2 separate regions of the Homo sapiens genome follow, and region 1 is linked to region 2. Evidence: fine-mapped expression QTL. A gene starts in region 2. The other region holds a variant in brackets. All regions are shown on one strand. Distances are from middle to middle. Region 1 has its middle 14 kb from the start of ZC3H18-DT. Region 2 holds the start of ZFPM1 (zinc finger protein, FOG family member 1).

Region 1 (10,143 bases), 95 kb before region 2:
CTGGTGGCTTTCTCGCTGTCCGTTTTCATACAGCCCCTCCTCTGTGTCTCTGTCTCCTTCTCCTTATCAGGACATAAGCCGCAGCAGCCCAGAGCTGTGACCCTTCATCTTACCTTCATTACCTCTGCAAAGACCCTGGTTCCACATCCACAGGTCCTGGGGCTAGGGACACGGCTCAACCTAAAACAGCCTCTAAATGAGGGGGTTTCAGAGGAAGATTGCCCCAGCCCCTCCGTGCCGAGAAGGATTTGGACATGGAGGAGTACGGGAAGGGCATTCCCGCCACTTGGAACAGCCCACAGCTGGAGGCATGCGTCAGGAGGAGCAGGGCCCTGTGGGCCCAGTGGGTGTGGAAGGTCATGTGTGGGGCAGTGTGTCTTCCAGAGGGCTCAGGAGTGTGGGGCTGGGAGCCACAGAGCCTGTGGCAGGCAGGCGTGACCAGGGACAAGTGTGTTGCCGGGGAAGACAGACCCGGAGGATCAGCGAGGCCAGGCTTCCCAGCGGTGGAGCCCCTGGACAAGGTTGTGTCCCTGTGGGAGGCAGAGGGCTTTTTCAGCCTTCATTTCAGGAACAATGACATGAAGCCCTGAGAAGGAGGAGCTCAGCCAGGAGCGGAAGGAGCTGGGCTTGAGCCCGGGGTTCAGTTCTACCAAACCCAGTCCAGAGCTGGCACCTGTCGGCAGCCAATGAGCACATTAAAAAATGTGATGAGGCTGGGCAATGGCTCACACCTGTAAACACAGCACTTTGGGAGGCTGAGGTGGGAGTATTGCCTGAAGCCAGTCCAAGACCAGCCTGGGCACACAGTGAGGCCCCCATCTCTGCAAAAAATATAAATAAAAAAAATCAGGCCTGGTGTGGTGGCTCATGCCTATAATCCCAGCAATTTGGGAGGCTAAGGCAGGTGGATTGCTTGAGGTTAGAAGTCCAAGACCAGCCTGACCAACATAGTGAAAACACATCTCTACTAAAACAAAAACAAAAACAAAAATTACCCACGTATGGTGGTGCACGCCTGTAATCCCAGCTACTCAGGAGGCTGAGGCAGGAGAATCGCTTGAACCCAGGAGGCGGAAGTTGCAGTTAGCCGAGATTGCACCACTGCACTCCAGCCTGGGCGACAGAGCAATTAGCCGGGTGTGGTGGTGCACACCTGTAGTCCCAAGTACTCGGGAGGCTGAGGCGGGAGGATGACTTGGGCCCAGGAATTTGAGGTGGTAGTGAGCTGAGATCACACCACTGCACTCCACCCTCACTCCAGGGTGACAGGGTGAGGCCCTGTCTCAAAAAGTAAATAAATAAGTAAATGAAAAATAAAAATGTGACAAGACCAGGTGCTCATTGATGAGTGAATGGAAAAACGAAATGGGGTCCATCTGTGCCTGGAAAATTCTTCAGCCATAAAAAGGAGTGGAACGCTGACACAGGCTACATTGGGACGAACCTTGAGACCCTTCTGCAGAGTGAAAGATGCCGGTCACGAGAGGCTACATGCGTGTGCCTCTGTGTCTCCAGAATGCACACAACAGGCAAAGCCACAGCAGGGGTAAGGACTGGGGGTGTCTGGGCTGGGGAGGGGGAGAGGCAGGCGGCTGCTAATGGGGTGGGTTTTTTTTTGTTGTTGTTTTTTGTTTTTTGAGACGGAGTCTCGCTCTGTTGCCTAAGCTGGAGTGCAGTGGCGTGATCTCAGCTCACGGCAACCTCCACCTCCTGGGTCCAAGCAATTCTCCTGCCTCAGCCTCCCAAGTAGCTGGGATTATAGGCCCACACCACCACACCCAGCTAATTTTTGTATTTTTAGTAGAGACGGGGTTTCACCCTGTTGGCCAGGCTGGTCTTGAACTCCTGACCTCAGGTGATCCACCTGCCTCGGCCTCCCAAAGTGCTGGGGTTACAGGCCTGAGCCACCTCGCCTGGCCTGAATTCGCATTTTAAAAGAGTCTTGGCCAGGCACGGTGGCTCACGCCTGTAATCCCATCTACTTGGGAGGCTGAGGCATGAGAATTACTTGAACCTGGGAGGTGGAGATTGCAATGAGCCCAGATCACACCACTGCACTCCAACCTGGGCAACAGAGACTCTTAAATAAATACATAAAGTCTCATTTGCATAATTTCATGTAATGATGAGCAGAGCCCTCTGAAGGTCATTATCCGGGCAGCCTCTCATCTGAGCTGGGCTCGGAGCCTGGACTGTCCTCTCCCGGGAGCCCCTTAGGCTCCGTGTTTTCATGGGCCAAGGTTGCTGTCAGACTGCCTGAGTCCCCAGGGCTCTGAGTCCGGCAGATGGTGTCCACGCCCATTTCCTCTTCTTTCCGCCAGCCTCACTGTAGCCTGGCCTTGCTACCTGGCCACTTCCTCCGGGCCATGCCGCTCCGGAAAGGAGCCCAAGGGCAGCCTTCTGTGTGGGGGCCACTGCGCCATCCGTGGGCCATGTGGGCTGCTCCAGAGGGCAAGGTCCCCGGCCTCCCTGGGTCAATCAGAGCTGGCTGTGCTTTGTCTGTTTGGTGGTAGAGCTGCGCCGTGCTGGGGACGGGGGTGCACACAGGAGGAGGCTCCTTCGGTTGGAGCAGAGTTGGGGTTGGGGTGGGGGCCACCCTCTCCCCTGGCCTGGCGTGGAAGGAGAGAACAGGCATGATGTGTGTCTTCTGGAAGATGGCAATGGGCACGGAGCAGAAGAAGACCAAAGGCCCGCCTGCAGCTCCCGTGTTTTGGTAGGGGCATTGCGCGTGTTCAGGAAGTGTGAGGTTCCTGTCTTCTCTGACAGCAAGGGCTCGGATCAGGAGCCAGGGGTAGGAGCGCAGACCTCAGGGGGAGATAACCAACCTTCACTCCCTCTGTGTTCTCTGGGCCTGTTCCCAGGTCAGAGGGCTGTGCTGGGGAGGTACCACACAGTTGGACTCAGCTACAGCTAAGTTTTGATTGAAGGCTCCTCCCAGGCACTCACCCTCTTAACCCTCTCAAGTGAGCCCCCGCTGGGTGCCTGAGCTGCAGGAACCTGCAAAACACCTTTGTCCCTCCCAGGCTTCAGACTGACTTCAGAGTTTCTTTTCTTTTTTTCTTTTTTTTTTGAGATGGAGTTTCGCTCTGTCCCCAGGCTGGAGTGCAGTGGCGTGATCTCGGTTCACTGCAACCTCTGCCTCCCAGGTTTAAGTGATTCTTCTGCCTCAGCTTCCCGTGTAGCTGGTATTATGGGTGCGCATCACCACACCCGGCTAATTTTTGTATTTTTAGTAGAGACAGGGCTTCACCATGTTGGCCAGCATGGTCTTGATCTCTTGACCTTGTGATCCACCTGCCTCGGCCTCCCAAAGTGTTGGGATTACAGGCATGAACCACCATGCCCGGCCTCTTGTTGCTATTTAGAGGAGAACAAATGACTTACAATCTAACGCAGATCAGAAGTGACTGCCAGTGTTTCTGACTGAGACTTAGATAACGAGTCACTCTGATGTTTGCACAGCAGTTTGAAGCAACACGATGTCTCCTTTTGTGAAATTAACTCTGAAATGGCCCCACGTTTAAAGAAGTGACTTTATTCTGCTTTGATATTTCAGCTCATTTTGAAACCCAAGCTTGGTCTCCTCTCTTTGCCGTGTGAATTGTCTATGGATTCCGGCTGAAAGCGGCGGACCCTGGCTGGTGGGTGCAGGTGCAGTACAGTTAGAGCTGGAGGCAGTCCTGCCTCGTGCAGCCACTGCCGGCGCTCGGGATGTAACCACTTGGACCCTCTGTTTCGTCTTCAGTAAAACAAAGCCAGCACCAAAAGGGTTAAGATTGGAACAGACTTTCCTCAACTCTGATCCATGGACCTGTGCGTTGGTGCCAATGTCTTCATCGATGTACAGTGAAACGAGGAAAAGGAGCGCCAAGTGGAATAAATCATTCATGTGGGCCGGGCGCGGTGGCTCACGCCTGTAATCCCAGCACTTCGGGAGGCCAAGGCAGGTGGATCGCTTGAGCCCAGGAGTTTGAGAGCAGCTTGGGCAACATAGGGAGAACTCGTCTCTATTAAAAAAAATAATACTTTCGTGTAAAAGGCTTTTTGTGCAGAGATTGTGCTATCCTACTGTATTTGGTGCTAAAAGGTGCTTTTATGAGATATTGAGACTATTGAGCAATAGTTAAAAAAATTAATGTCAGTATCTGGAAAAAACATAAGGTTAGAGTCCTATGCTAACCCGGAAGTGATTGTCGACAGTTTTCTGGTTTGTGATTTTTCCAAAGTCTGGGGACCCCTGTTCGGGGTGGCGCTGCCTCACTGGTGCCTTCAGGTGAACCCTGGCTGGGGGAAGAGTCCCCGGGAGGGAGCTGGGCCCAGCTATTCAGCCCAGCCAGAGCAGAGAAGGCAGTCGGTCAACATGCAGGCCCTGCCCCGGGCTTTGGTGCCAGATAAAGGGATGTCCCAGGAGTTCCTCTGAGACCCTGGAGCCTGTGGCTGGTGCGTGTGGGAGGAAGGGAGGTGTGAGCCAGGCGCCCAGACCACAGGGCTGGTGGGTGGGGCAGGAAGAGGGCCAGTGCCCCACATGAACCTGCCAGGGCTGTGGGCCTGGAAGCCCCTTCCCCCGGGAGGGTGACAGGGTCATTGACGGTGACCACCTGGCTGGTGCTGACGTGGAGGGTGGGGA[T/A]TGGAGCCACTGGGGTGGGACCCTCTGGCCATCCACTGGGAACCCCACCTTACAGGGGAAAGGGCAGTGGCGGTCAGGCTGCTGTCAATCCCTACTGTAGTGTGTGGGTGGGGGCTCCGTGCCCTGGAGACCCCCGATCATCTTTCTGGCCACAGGATGTCCTGCCTGTTCTATGCCTCCTGGGTGTGGGGGGAACCAAGGGTCCAGGAGGGGAACTGTGCAGTCTCATGGATCAAAAGGGCCAAGGTGGGGTGAGGCCAGGGTGTCTGCAGCCCAAGCACATACCCATGAGTTTCACACTTGGATGGTTGTCACCCTCTGTTCCCTCACCTTCCCCACCCTCTGTCCCCTCACCTTCCCCACCCTCTGTCCCGTCGCCTTCCCCACCCTCTGTCCCGTCGCCTTCCCCACCCTCTGTCCCCTCGCCTTCCCCACCCTCTGTCCCCTCGCCTTCCCCACCCTCTGTCCCCTCGCCTTCCCCACCCTCTGTCCCCTCGCCTTCCCCACCCTCTGTCCCCTCGCCTTCCCCACCCTCTGTCCCCTCGCCTTCCCCACCCTCTGTCCCCTCGCCTTCCCCACCCTCTGTCCGGTCACCTTCCCCACCCTCTGTCCCCTCGCCTTCCCCACCCTCTGTCCCGTCACCTTCCCCACCCTCTGTCCAGTCACCTTCCCCACCCTCTGTCCCCGCACCTTCCCCACCCTCTGTCTCCTCACCTTCCCCACCCTCTGTCCCCGCACCTTCCCCACCCTCTGTCCCCGCACCTTCCCCACCCTCTGTCCGGTCACCTTCCCCACCCTCTGTCCCCTCGCCTTCCCCACCCTCTGTCCCCTCGCCTTCCCCACCCTCTGTCCCCTCGCCTTCCCCACCCTCTCCTCGCCTTCCCCACCCTCTGTCCCCTCGCCTTCCCCACCCTCTGTCCCCTCGCCTTCCCCACCCTCTGTCCCCTCGCCTTCCCCACCCTCTGTCCCCTCGCCTTCCCCACCCTCTGTCCCCTCGCCTTCCCCACCCTCTGTCCCCTCGCCTTCCCCACCCTCTGTCCCCTCGCCTTCCCCACCCTCTGTCCCCTCGCCTTCCCCACCCTCTGTCCCCTCGCCTTCCCCACCCTCTGTCCCCTCACCTTCTCCACCCTCTGTCCCCTCACCTTCTCCACCCTCTGTCCCCTCACCTTCCCCACCCTCTGTCCCCTCACCTTCTCCACCCTCTGTCCCCTCACCTTCCCCACCCTCTGTCCCCTCACCTTCTCCACCCTCTGTCCCCTCACCTTCTCCACCCTCTGTCCCCTCACCTTCCCCACCCTCTGTCCCCTCGCCTTCTCCACCCTCTCTTCCCTCACCTTGTCCACCCTCTGTTTTCTCACCTTAGAAATGAGCAGAAAGGTGCAGAGATGGGCGATGGGTCTGGACAGATGTTTCTCCATAGACATACAGTGGCCAGTGAGCAGGGGGATGCTGCGTGGCACTGCCGGTCACTGGAGAATGCAGATTACAGCCCCAGTGAGACTCCGCTTCTCATGCATTCAGATGCTGAAGTCAGACAGTGCTGCAGCATGTGTTGGTGGGATGTGGAGGCCTGGCATGCACTGCTGATGGGAACAGCAATCGGTGTGACTGTTGTGGAAAGTAGGGTGACAGCCACTCAAAAGCTCAACCTCGGGCCTGGGTGCGGTGGCTTATGCCTGTAATCCCAGCACTTTGAGAGGCTGAGGAAGGAAGATTGCTTAAGTAAGGAGGTGGATACCAGACTGGGCAACATAGTGAGATGCCATCTCTACAAAAAGTAAAAAAAAATAGCTGGGAATGGTGCTGCACGCCTGTGGTCCTCAGCACCTAGGAGGCTGAGGTGGGAGGACCCCTTGAGCTCAGGAGGTTGAGGCTGCAGTGCACCGTGATGGCGCCATTGTTCGCCCTCTGCCTTTGATTGGAGAGTGATGATTTCCTCGTGCTGGCTGGAGACTGGAGCATCCCATGTGCATGCTTCCTGAACTTCTATCTGACTTTACTTGTATTATTATTATTGCAAAGGTAGAAACAAAAAGAGACGCAAGATGGTCGGGCACAGGACCCCTGTCCCCAGCTCATGAGGTGCCACCGGGATCTTTTTGCAGCCCTGGCCGGCCCTCTGTGCCCTGTGTCCCACCCTACTCCAAGTCCCAGCTATCCTGAGTCAGGTGCAGCAGCCTTCAGGAGCCAGTGGGGCTCACTGAAGCGGGTCTCACTGGCTGAGGTCCAGGCGTGAGCAGGGCTGGCCCCAGCTGGGAGCTCCTGAGGAGAACCAGCTGCTTATTCTGGAAGCCTCCCCGTTCCTTGGCTCATGGCACCCCCCCCATCTTCAAAGCCCATTGAGTCCTCCCATCCCACCTCTCTGGTATTCTTCCTGACCCCTCTTCCACTGATAAGAACTTTGTGATTATGCTGTGCCCACCAGGATGATCCAGGGTAATCTCTGTATCTTGGGTCAGCTGATGAGCAACCTCAACTTCCCCTGCAGCCTTAACTCCCCTCTGCTGCATGAGGCTGCGCCTTCACAGGCTCCCCCTGGGGATGAAAACACAGGCATCTTTGGGGCCATTCTTCTGCCAGCCGCCCCTCTCCCGGCATCGTTGTCTATGTCTGCTGCCTGTATTTGAATCCAGTGTACGTGCACACCTGAGTGGCCCTGCATCTCCCGGCAGCGTCCATGGTAAGATTCCCTGTGCTGACTCACAGAGCCAGACGTGGTGGCCCAGGCCCATAATCCCAGCTACTCAGGAGGCTGAGGCTGGAGAATCGCTTGAACCTGGGAGGCGGAGGTTGCAGTGAGCCAAGATGGAGCCACTGCACTCCAGCCTGGGCGACAGAGCAAGACTCCGTCTCAAAAAAAAACCCAAAAACAAAAAAAAACAAAAAAACTAGTAGTTAGACTGTGTGTTACCATGTGCTGATGTTTATTAGTTACTGAACTTGGGATTAACTGACTTCTTTGTCAACAAGGTCTAAACCAAGCCACACACCCTCATGGTAGCCTCTTCCAAGTCTGAGGTTTGCTGAGGGAGGGTGAGTGCAGCCCTGAAGTGGGAGCAACCGAAGCACAAAGCATGATGTGAGCAGGAGCCCAGCTCCCTCCAGCCACTGCAGACATTGCATCAAAAACTGCCCCCGTGTTGGCCAGGTGCGGCGACTCATGCCTGTGATCCAAGCACTTTGGGAGGCTGAGGCAGGAGGACCAATCGAGCACAGCGGTTCACAGACCAGCCTGGGCAATATAGTGAGACCCTGTCTCTTATTTTATCTATTTATTTATTTATTTTTGAGACAGAGTCTCGCTCTGTCACCCAGGCTGGAGTCAGTGGCGCGATCTCCGCTCACCACAATCTCCGCTTCCCGGGTTCACGCCATTCTCCTGCCTCAGCCTCCCGAATAGCTGGGACTACAGGCGCCCACCACCACGCCTGGCTAATTTTTTGTATTTTTTTAGTAGAGATGGTGTTTCACCGTGTTAGCCAGGATGGTCTCAATCTCCTGACCTCTTGATCCACCCATCTTGGCCTCCCAAAGTACTGGGATTACAGGCGTGAGCCACCCCGTCCGGCCCCTGTCTCTTCATAATAAAATTTTTATAATGAAGAAATTGCCTTGGTGTGTTCCATGGTGGTGTCTGTGATTGTGGGAACCAGTTTTCTTTTCCTTGGCTATTTTCAAATTTCACTGGTCCTTTAAAAAAACACACAGTAGAACTTTAAAACAACAACAACTAAAGTCGTACATTGACACCCAACAAACACCACAGCTCCTGGTGAGGTGAGAAGTGGCTTTTGACTCACAGGGAGTCAGGGCTGCACTGAGCAGTTTGCAAATCTCAGCTCCAATGATCATGAGGTATGAACAAACTCGCCAAGGCTACCTGCCTGAAACCACAAGTGCAGCCAACAATGATGATCTTTGGTAGTGCTTTTTTTTTTCTTTTTTTTTTTTTTTTTGAGACGGAGTCTTGCTCTGGCGTCCAGGCTGGAGTGCAGTGGTGCGATCTTGGCTTCTTGGCTCATTGCAACCTCTGCCTCCCAGGTTCAAGTGACTCTCCTACCTCAGCCTCCCGAGCAGCTGGTACTACAGGCGCCAGCCACCATGCCTGACTGATTTTTGTATTTTTAGTAGAGACGGAGTTTCACGTATTGGCCAGGCTGGTCTCGAACTCCTGACCTTGTGATCTGTCTGCCTTGGCCTCCCAAAGTGCTGGGATTACAGGTGTGAGCCACCACACCCGGCCTCCCAGAGTGCTGGGATTATAGGTGTGAGCCACCGTGCCTGGCCAATCTTTGATAGTTGTACTGATTATTTTCATCATTACCATGATCGTCACTATCATCATCATTATCACACACTATTGTCACCATCACCACCATCATCAGAATGTGCGTTTTCAACTTTAGAAATGAAAAATGCCATAAAAAATATTCACCGCAGATTAAGCAACAGATAACACACTGGTAAAGAGGGAATTTATTGACCAGAAAGTAGATCAGAAGAAATGACCCATTAGGAGTGCAGAGAGATAAGGAGATAGAAAATCTGAAAGAGAAGCTAAGAAGTACAGAGTAGAGAAGAGAATCTAATATAAATCTAATCAGAGTTCCAGAAAGGAGAGCAGAGGGAATGGGGAAAGGCAACATTCAAAAACAAAATGGCTGGGGATTTTTCAAAAATGTTGAAAGGTAAGAATTCTCGGATGTAGGAATGCCAACGAGGATGCACACTTAGTGAACTGTATACAATTGCAGGCTGTTAACGGTGAACCGATCCTGAAAGAGGTGATGATAAAGAAATACAGCTGACTACTCTTCATCAACAATGAGAGTCAGAGAAAAGTGGAAGCACATCTTTTCCTTTGTTTTTTTTTTTTGAGACAGAGTTTCACTCTTGTTGCCCAGGCTGGAGTGCAATGGCACCATCTCGGCTCACTGCAACCTCTGCCTCCCGGGCTGAAGTGATTCTTCTGCCTCAGCCTCCTGAGTAGCTGGGATTACAAGCATGTGCCATCACGCCTGGCTAATTTTTTGTATTTTTGGTAGAGACAGGGGTTTATCCATGTTGGTCAGGCTGGTCTCGAACTCCCGACCTCAGGTGATCTACTCGGCTTGGCTTCCCAAGGTGCTGGGATTATAGCCGTGAGCCACCATGCCAGGCCTAGCACATCTTCAAAGAATGAGAAAAGTGAACTGTCAAGCTGGATGGAGTGTCCAGCCAACTTCTCGTTCAAGAATTATGGCACAATAAAAGCTTTTCAGAGAAAACAGTAGCATAGTTTTGCCCAGTCAGGCCCTCATTAATGAACATTTACAGGATGCTATTAAGGAAGAAAGAACGCAACGCCAGGAGGTTGTGCTGGGATGGCTTGTGACCCAGCAATCTCCACCATCCATGGCCAGGCGGCATTTGAGGGGGCTGCACCTGCCCGCCAGGTGCACTGGAGCTGCCTATCCACCTGCTGCTGGCACCTGGTGCTTCCCATTCCCGCACCGCCCATCTGATTGGTGCCAGCC
Region 2 (10,143 bases):
CCTCTGGTCCCAAAGGCCCATTTCACAGATGTGGAGACTGAGGCTGAGAGAGGCTCAGGGTGGCAGGGCAGACAGAAGCCGGAGGATGGAGAGAAGGCAGCGCGGTGCTCACGGACACACCCTTAAGGAGCGCAGGCCCGGCCGCCTGGGTTCCAACTCTAGCTCCATCACTTGCTTGGGCGAGAAACTTCTCTGTGCTTCAGTTTCCCCAGATGTAAAATAGTGATCAGAAGAGGACCTGCTTTAAGTTAATACACAGCCTGGCACAGAGAGGGCTCTTAAGCATTGGCTGTTATGAATATTATTCTTACCATCAAATGATCATGAGCTGTCTGCCTTCCCTAAGGCCCAGGAAAGGGGGTAAACCACAATCGGCCCAGAGCTGGGTGACGGCGTGGACTCCGGGGTCCGCCAGACCCTGCTGGAGTCCAGGTTTAGGGGTGGGGGGCCTTGAGAGTACCTCCCGATCTCTAATTCCCTCTGCTAAATGTGGCTTGAGGGCAGGTGCGGTGCCTCGTGTCTGGAACCCCAGTGCTTTGGGAGGCTGAGCTGGGAGTATAGCTTGTGCCCAGGAGTTCAAGACCAGCCTGGGCAACGTAGTGAGACTCCATGTCTATTTTGTAAAAAAATTTTAACTAAGGAAAAAAAAAAGAGAGAGAAAGAGAGAAAAACGTGGCTGGGATCAGGACTCTGAGATGACAATGATGGCTTCGCAGCCTAAGCATCAAGCAGGCTGCAGGCACCGTTCCCCTCAGGATGGTGACTGGGGACGAGGCAACTGGGCCAAGGACCAGGTAAGCTGAGAGCAGGACCTGCAGCCCCTGGATGGCAGACACTATCATATCCATGTTTCCAACAGGGGGAAACTGAGAGCTGTGGAAAGCACAGTAACTTGTCCCCTGTGGTTCAGCACCAGGGTCAGCCAGGCTGCCAAAGCCCCTTCTTTCCTGGATGCTCTGCCACCACTCTGGGTCATGAGCATGGTAAGGTGGCCTCTGACAGCCTCAACACCCGGGTGCCTCCCACGCATGGAAGGCCAGTGTGGATGGCTCTGTGCTGACATCCCACTCATGTTCATAACACATCACAGAAACCACCCCATCTCCCTCTGGGCCCAACCCAGCCCTCTCTGGAACTGGAAATGGCCCTTGCCAGATGGCACTGCCAGCCCCACGGGTGGGCGTTGGGCTGCTGGGGAGAGCAGGTGGGTGACTTTGAAGCTTGGAGTGAATTAGTCATCCTGTGGTTACCAATAATTTGTTTAATCAAACTCTGAGAGTGTGTGAAAAACACCTTGTTCTGAGCTGCAGCAGCTGCCTGGGCTGGAATAGGAGGGGCTCAGGGACCCTCCCTCCCCGGCTCCTTCCGGAAGGCCCTACCCAGATGGCCTAGGGTTCTATCTGGCCTGTGGGATCCATGGGCCCTTCCACTGCAAAGTGCCTCGGTGGACCCTCAATATCTCCAGCCTGACCTGGGGACTCCCACAGCCCTGGGGACCTATTCCTGATTCCATTTTTCAGAGTGGGAGACCAAGGACCTGACCAACTCCATCACTCCCGACCTCACTCGCACCTGCTGGCACAGGCTGGCCCCCCAGCCCCAGGCGCCTCTCAGCCCTTGCTCCCCCGACAGCAGTGGAAAACTGAGGCCAGCCCTACTGTGCCAAAGGTCACCCCCTTCCAAGAAGTGTCCCTGACCACCTGACGTGCCCCCTGCTCCCCTTGGCTGCCCCCTCTGCCCCTCTCGTTTGCCACTGGGACCCAGGGCCTGTATGCAGTAGTGCTCAGCAAACAGTGCTCAGCCCAGGCAGGTCTGCAGCGCCTCCACACCAGGGTACACTGGCCTCCCCCAAAGCAGTCTGGGCCATGGAAACCACCTTGATTTTTTTTTTTTCAAGAAAACTCCAAGCAGTGTACACTTGGTTCTTGCTAGGAACTACCAGCAACACCAGCATGATTCAAGGGGAAAACACCCTCTCTCCCTCTGGAGGTGACAAACCCACCTCTAGCGGTCTCGCACCATCTACGAGGACTCGGGGCGGGGTGTCCTCCCCCTTCCCCCTCCTGGCCGGGGCAAAGCCAGTTTTCTTTCATTTTGACGGACTGTACCACCGGCCACAGGGGAGGATCAACTTCTTGGCAATTAAGTGTGTTTGGGGAGAAAACTCCCCCAGACAGACCAGCGCAGGGACGCCGGCTCCCCGGCCCCAACCCGGGCCGTTCCAAGCCCCCACTCGCCCCAGTCGCGGCGCCCCCGCGCTGTTCTCCAACCCGGCCGGGCCTGGTGGCCAAAGATAAGGCCTCTTATCGCTCTTGGCGATCGCCATCGGGCCGACCGGCCAGGCTCTTATCGGAGCTCACATCGACTCGGGCGGGAGGAAAACCCAGCGGGCTGGGGGCGCCGGGGGTCCCGAGCTGCCCCGGCCCCGCGCTCCCCGTCGGCAGCCCGGCCTATCGCCTCCGCCATCTGGCCGGCCAAGGCCGCGCTCCCGCCTCGCCCTGCCCCCGCTCCCACGTTTGAAGTTAATAAATGGAAGCGCCTATCTCAGCCACCATCGGTTGCGCGCCTTATCAGCGCGGCACATCTATCTCCGCACGGAACAAAAGGCGCACAGAGGCGCGGGCAGCTGCGCCAGGGCTTTGATGGGGGCGCGGGTGGGGGGTGGGCGGCCCGAAGCGCTCGGCCCCCTCCGCTCTGCACTCGCGGCCCGGCCGCAGGTGAGGCCAGGGCAGCGGGCAGGCACAGGCGCTGGCAAGAGGGCGGGCGGGCGGGCGCCGCCGCTTGGTGACAATCAGCCTTCGCATCTTAACGTGCTGAGATCTGCCATGGGGAGGAGGCGCCCCGGGCCGCGAGCGACAGGGAGGGTCCGCGGCCCTGCCTTCCTCGTCCGGGCCCTTTCTCTGCCCCGGTCCCGGGCCGCAACGAGGATGGGCCGCGGTGGCTCACCGTGCACCCGCCGCGGTCCCAGTTCCCAAAGTGCGCGCGCTCTGCCCGCCCCGCTGGGCTGGGCTACGGGCTCTCGCTGGCGCTGGCGGCCTTATCAGCGCTGGAGATCGGTTTCCAACCTGCGATCTCCCTGTCCGAGCTATCTGCATTTCTCATCACAGTGAAACACCACACACACACACACACACACACACACACACACACACACACCCCAGAACCGAACATAGGCGCTCAGGGAAGGAAGGAAAAAGAAACCAGAGCACAAGCGCGGATCGGGACCTGTGGGTGGCTTTTAATACTTGAGTTGACACGATAGAAGGCGACTTTCGGAAAACAGGTCCCGTTTGCGCTGAGGGAGTTGGGTTACGGGAACCGGTTCATGCCTGTGACCCCCGCCTCGGGAGACCTCCTGAGTAGGGAAGCTCCCACAGGCCCCGCACAAGGGGTCCTGGTGGCAGTGGTCGTGTGGACAAAGGAGGTAGTGCCCGGGCGCCTACGGCTGGGCAGCGGGCGGGTTTCCGTCGTGGCCTCCTGGCAGGGCTCAGACGACCTGCCCGTCAGGCTCCGGGGAGGCGCCCCGGGGAGGAAGACCTGCGTCTGGGCCCTAACTGTGAGGCGCAAAGTTATTATTGGCATAGGGTGGGGAGGGTAGCTTCCTGTGCTCTTGCTCCCTCCTGGCACAGCCCAGAGGCCCAGGCCAGACAGTGGCCCCGACAGCTTAGTTCTCATCGCGGGGGCACTGGCAATGTGGCGGCGGGGCAGCAGCCTCTGACCGGGCAGGGAGCCGGACCAGCGAGAAACTTAGTGGCGTGCAGGGGCGACCCCGGCCCGGGGCTGCGTCCTGGGAGGCCCTTCTCTGACTCAGAGCAGCCCATTGGGATGCCAGGGGGTGCCCGCGGGCATCCGAGGGCACCATTTGTTGCCCATGCCGCCTTGGCTGGGACACTTGCAGGGTCCAGGAGGTGTCACCAGGCTGGCGGGGCCTGGGTTCAGGACTTCAGCGCTAGGGCACGGGGTGGGGGTGTCTGGGGGGCTGGAGCCAAGTGCCTAGGCTGCGGCAGCTGCGCGCTACCCCCTCCCCTGTCCTGCGGCTCTGCGACGGCACCGGTGGGGGTGGGCGCGGGCCGGTGCCTGCCACTTGGCCAGGCATCTCCGCGGCCCCGGGTGTCCCCTCTGCCTCCCAGGTCTCTCTCTTCGCTTCTAGATACAAAGCCTGGGAGAGTCAACCGCGCGAGATAAGATCACAATTTCAGCCCGTCCCGACAGAACGATCTTATCAGGACGGGACTTGCAGAATGTAATATTTTAAACTTTATCTGAGCCCAGATCGGGGCCGCCCTATCGCCGCACCATCTCGCAGATGCGGGGGAGGGGCAGGCCGCGAGGGGCCGAGCTGCCCGGGCCGCGCCCCCAAACACCCTCCTCCCGGCCTCCGGGCGGCCCCCTCCTGGGCTGAACCCCCCGGTGCCCAAGCCGAGACGCGGGGGCCCAGGCCGCCGGCGGAGATTAGATTACGGCGCGCTTGGCACAGCGCGGGGGGCGCGGCGCGGGGTGAAGGTCGCCGGCGCCCAGGGCAGAGCGGGGACGGGCGGGGGCGGCGCTGGCGGCTGGGCTCCGGCGGGGGTCGGGCGCGCGGAGGGGACCGCGGGCAAAGTTTGACTCACGCTTGATCTGCCGGGGGTTGCTCTGTTTCCGCCTGGACATGTCTCCGGCGCCGCGCGCCCTCCCGGCGGCCGCCTCTAGCCCCGGGCGGGCGGCGGCGGGCGGCGGGGGCGCGGCGGGGCCGCGGGGCCGCTCATGCCCCCGGCCCCCGGTCTCCGCGGCCGCCCCGGCCCGCGCCCCCAGCCCGCGCGCCCAGCCCCGGAGCCGCTGGAGCTGCCGCGGAGGCCCGAGAGGCCACGGTCCTGCGTTGCGGGCGCGCGGACTGCCCGACGGGCGGGTGCCGGCTCCTCCGCTCCCGCGCACTCGCCGCCGCCGCCGCGGCCGCTCGGCTTTTCTCAATGGAACCCGCGGGCGGCGAGCGGCGGAGCAGGCGGCCACTGCGAGGGCGCTCCTGGCGGGCTGGAGGCACGGGGCGGGGCCGGGCCTGAGCGTCGTCGGCCGCCGCACCTCCCGCCCCGCCCCCGGCGCTCCGGCCCCGCCCCGTGCCTCCTGCCGGGCCCTGCACCTCTCCGGCTCCGCCCCCAGCGCCGCGGCCACGCCCCCGCCAGCCCGGCTCTTCGTTGCTCTGGCTCCGCCCCCAGAGCCGCGACCGCGCCCCCGCCCGCCTCGCTCTTTACGGCGCTGGCTCCGACCCCAGCGCTGCGGCCCCGCCCCTGTCCGTCTGGGCCTTCAAGGCACTGTCCCCGCCCCGCTCGATGCCCCGCCCCTTCCTGGTTCGGCCCCGCCCGCGCCCCGGGGAGACCTCTAGCCTCCCCCACTCCTCTTTGGCCCGGAGGTCATGTCCCCAGGCCGCGCTGGGAGTCTGAGACCTATTCGGTTCTGTTCTGCTGCCCCGCGGCACCGCATCCTGCGCCCCGCCTCTCGGCGCCAGCTCCGCCTCCAAACCTGACCCGACCTGGTTGGGTCCTGAGACGCCGAGGCTCCGCCCCCGCACTGTAACTCCGCCCCCAGCCCTTGGTCCCTCCCTAGACCCCTGGGCTCTGCCGCACGCTCCACGTGCGCGGTGGGGGCAGTGACAACCGGCTCAGGAAGCCCGAGGCCTTGACGCCCACGTTTCTCTTGGGCCAGACTTGGGGTGTGGAGCGGATTCGGGCCAGGGAGGGGGCTTCCGTCCCAGACTGCGGTGGGGTCCGCCAACTGAGAGCAGGATCTCGGGTCTTCCCCTGTGAGCTCAGACCAGGCTGGAAATCGAGGAGGGGGCGCGGGAGCCGGCAGCCCTGGGCGTTGCCACTTGGGGCCTCTTTCCTCACCGAGCCTCTCCAGGGCGCCCCGCAGGAGACCCACGAAGGAGTTGCCCACAGCGCCCGGGCCACAGCCCCCTCTCGGAGCAGTCAGAGGTCAGCGAGGTTTGTGGGCGCGGTGCTGTCAGCTCAGGCCTGGAAATGGAGAACTGTTGCCCTCTGGGGTGTGTTCAAGAGCCCCACTTCACGGAGGCTCGGGGACTTGCTCAAGGTCACGCATTGGGGGGCTGTCCCCCACTCCCAGCTGAGTTGTATCATCTCCTTTTAATGTTCTCGGTCTACACTTGCTACCTGCTCCCCCATCCCCCGTACTCATAAGAAACGGGCGTCAGTGGGCCCAGGGGCAGACAGGAAGGACCCCTCCCACCTGATGATGAGATCATCGCACAGCAGGACTGTCACACCACCCGCCAGCCTGCTGGGAGCTCCTAAGACCCCATCTCGTGCCAACTTCTGTGACCTATTCCCTGGCTCCAAGGAAGGGGAGAAGTGGGGGCTTACCCTCAGAGCCTGGTACAGGAGAGTGGCGGGTGGGTAGGAGAGGCAGGGGTACAACACTGGATATGCGCCGTCCCTCCCCACTGCCATGGACAGACAGGAACACTGAGACCAGGAGGCCAAGAGAGCTGCCCAGGGGCATACGGGTCCTCCAGCCCTTCCTGCTCTCTGCCAGGGTCCAGTGGGCACAGCCTTCCCACAGCTGCTCTCTGGAGGGGGTGGGGCCCATGTCTGATTGGTTCACTCAACCTAGGACCTCCCCCCCACCCTCCCGCCCCCACCCAGTGCTTGTCAACTGGATGGAGCACCTACCTGTCTGGGTTTCCCACCAGGCCTCGCCTCCTTCCCCAAAGAAGTCCACTTTAGAGTATGTGGACCTGTGAGTTAGGGGAGTTCCTGGAGGAGGTGGCCATGGGCTGGCACCTGGGCTGGGTCTGAAGCTCCACGCACAGCAAGTGGCACCCAGGCTGGCGCTGCTGGAACGGGCGGAGATCTGTGTTGAGGTGGATTCCGAGGGTCAACAGGAGACAGCCATGATCATCCATGATTGATGTCTGTCTAGGCTGCAGGAGGAGACGATGGGGATCATTTTGGCTGCTGCTTTGCCTGATCTGATTTATTTCTATGAGCCCATATATAGATGAAAACATGGAGGGACATGCCCAGGGAAGCCAGCGAAGGGGGCAGGCGGCAGGTCCAGACCACAGCCTGCTGCCCTGCCTCCATCACTTGCAAGGCCCCATGCAAAATGAAAATATGAAAATGTGGAGCCCCCTTGATCAAAACCCCCAAACCCCAAAACCCCAGGGCATCAAGGGCAGGATGTTGAGCCCGGTGTGGTGCCCTTCCCAGCTCGGGCCCTGTGCCCCTGCACCGGTCACAGGTCCCCTAACCCTGCCAGGGCTGCTTTTGTAGCACATTCCTTCTACACTCTGTCCCTCTACCTGCCCGGAGGAAGGCATTATTACAGATGAGAAAACCGCAGCCAAGAGGGGAGGCTGCCTGCTGATGTCGAGTGGTAAAGCTGCAGGACCTTGCACACACCATTAAACCCTCAGGGTGGTCATGACGATAACCATACACTGAGGAAGAGACACAAGGCATGCTGTCTAGAGGATGGTCTGGGGGAGCCCAGAGCAGGAGCGGCCATCTCTGCCTGGGGAAATCAGAGAAGGCTTTCTGGAGAAGGTGACATCCAAGTGGGGCTTTCCAGGAGTCCCTGATCAGGTGGGAGAGGAACAGGGCGTGGGGTTGCTGAGGCTGTCCAGGCTGAGCCCACCTAGGACCTCCACCCCCCACCTGCTGCCCATTGTGAACCCCAGTTTCCATCTGCCCCTGCATGTTCTCGAGGTGTGTTGAGATTCACATCCAAAGTCACTGGTGGGGAAGTTGGAATTGCATTCAGGAGCTGCACTGGGTTCTCCCCTGCTGGCTCCCAGGGAGAGCAGGGCCTGGAACACATAGGAAGTGCTGTCTGGCAGTGGCCTGGAGACTGCCTCCCCTCCAAAAACAACCTCAGCCCAAAGAAGACATTTTTGGGGTTTGAGAAGTGGGGGTGTGCAGGGGTGGGCTGGGCCAGTGGACATGGAATTCCAGCCTTCTATTAGGAGTAGAGGGGTGTGATGGGGCAAATGCCTTACTATGCTTCTACTCTGCCTCAGCCCTGCCCCTGATGCTGGGTCGGTTTCAGGGGAGGTTCTCCTGTGCGTTGCCGACCCTGTACATTTGGAGGTAAGGGAGGAGGCACTCTGAGATGGCCTCCTCTCCCAGCTCCCCAGCCTCCTCTCCCCTTTCCGGGACCTGTGTCAGCATCACCAGCACAGCACTGACTTTGTGCTTCCAGGCTGTGCCAGGTCCGTGCCACCTTTGCACAACTGGCTGGGGTGGGGGCTCAAGTTACCACCATATTACAGATGCAGAAACTGAGGCTTGGAGCGGACCAGTTGCTTTTCAGGGGTCCTACGTCTTGGAAGTGCTGGAGCTGGGAGGGAGCCCAGGAACTCTCACTCCAGAGCGCATGTTCTTCACCCTGAATGGGACGTTGGGAAAACTGGGTTCGAGTCTTGGCTCTGCCACTTTCCCTCCTACCTGTGGGCTACCGGCCATGGACCTGGCTCCTCTGACGGGCCAGTGCCGAGCTGCCCCAGCGTGCAGGGCAGGCCCACCTGTCTCCTCTTCGGCAGTCTCCCGGGGAGAGCTCAGGAAGGCCACCCGGGGCTGGGCAGCAGCTGTGGATGGGTGAGGGGCTAATTGTGGCACCACCTATGTGCCAGGCCGACTGTTGAGCTGTGACTCAAGGAGCCACAGAATGTTCTAGGAACTTAAGCTGGACCTTGAAGGATGAGGATGAAGAGGATGATCAAAAAAGAGTGATGGGAGAGAGAAGGGCATTTCTGGCGGAGAGGGTGCAGGGGCAGAAGCTGGAGGCCGGGGTGGGTGGACCAGGGACCGCAGTGGCTGCAGGGCTGGTGCACCTGGAGGTCAGGCCACGTGAGGGCCTCGGAACCAGGCTGCACCCAACTCCTCTGTCTGCTTCCCACCACTCCCCACAGCTGGCCTGTCACCAGGATCTGTGACTTCACTTCCTTATGGCTCTGAGAGGCCCCTCCCACCCTGCTCCAAACCTTCATCAGCCTCATCTTGCCCACTCTCCCCCACCCTGGCTGGTCCCTGATGGAAGGGTGAAGCCAGCGGGGCCTCCTAAGAGCCATGTGTCGTAGCCTCAGGCTCTGCCCTTCCTTCATCCTGGAGCCTCCCTGTATGTGGGTCCAGCGGTCCCCCTTGGCACAAGCTATTGGGCTGCTGGGTGCACCCTTCCCTCCGTTGCCTGGCCTGGTCTGCCCACCCCTCCTGAGGGAATCCACTGAGTGCCCCAGGCAGGCTCAGGTCTCTCTGTCCCAGAGTGCAGGGCAGGCCCAGCTGTCTCCTCTTCCGCAGTCAGCGCTGCCCTCCTACAGCAGCAGCCACAGCAGACACTGCGGAGGGCCCTTCCGAGCCAGGCTGCACATTTGCATATGTCGGCACACTCTGCTCACAGCAGCTCTCTGCAGAAGGAGCTGTCAGAATTCCCATTTGCCAGATTTGTAAACAGAGGTTCAGAGAGGGGAAGTCACTCGCCTGAAGCAGCAAAGCAGGGAAGCGCAGGGCAGGACTCTCTCGGGGACGCGCATGCTCTGAAACGCACAGGGGTGGCTGAGTGAGGGGAAGGGACCCCAGGACCTCTCCCGTGGTCCCCGCCCGGGCAGGGCCTCACTTCCCCCACTGCCAGTCATCCCCAGGCCTTGGCGCCGCCGGGCAGCCGTGCCAGGGGCCCATTCTGACATTTGTCAAAGCTGGCTCTGTGAAGGGTTTAATTAACTTCCTGTTTCAATGGGGGGGATAATGAGTTTTAAATACCACATGACTCCATAAGGAGGTCAGGCGGCAGCGGAGATGTCAAAATAAATTAAGTTAGGAATCGGGAGGCCACTCGCCATGGGGGGTGGTCTGGCTGGCTCTGGGATGCTGCCTGGGCCACCCTGGGCAGGGGCTGCTGCTGCTGTGGCCCTGTTGTCACTGGGGCTGGCTCTGGCTTTGGAGACGGGGCTCAGGCAGTCCCACCCTCAGCCGGGACCCATCTGATCTATCAGACATCCGGGGACAGCAGAAAGCGGGCTTGGCCTGGGAGCACGCTGGATAAGCCCCTCTCCTGTGGGTCTCACAAGCTTTGCCCTCCAAGAGCCAATGGCCAGGCTCTTGCCTGGAGACTGTCCTTGGATATCAGCCGGGAGTGACCTTTTCACGCAACTGCCTGTCT

What was found.
Region 1: its variant is fine-mapped to the expression of ZFPM1 in whole blood (TOPMed, PIP above 0.99).

Annotation. Positions count from the first base shown.
Region 1 is chr16:88,542,685-88,552,827 of GRCh38, reverse strand. No RefSeq gene overlaps it. Among named protein-coding and RNA genes, the nearest start is that of ZC3H18-DT, 14 kb to the left of the region's middle. The variant T/A (reference allele first, on the strand shown) is at 4,628.
Region 2 is chr16:88,448,146-88,458,288 of GRCh38, reverse strand. ZFPM1 (zinc finger protein, FOG family member 1) reads right to left here and starts at 5,009. Exons shown (of 10, transcript NM_153813.3): 1 at 4,611-5,009. The coding sequence starts at 4,650. RefSeq lists enhancers at 1,805-1,934, 1,965-2,014 and silencers at 2,265-2,324, 2,355-3,064, 4,005-4,074, 4,295-4,424, 4,885-4,974 and 1 more.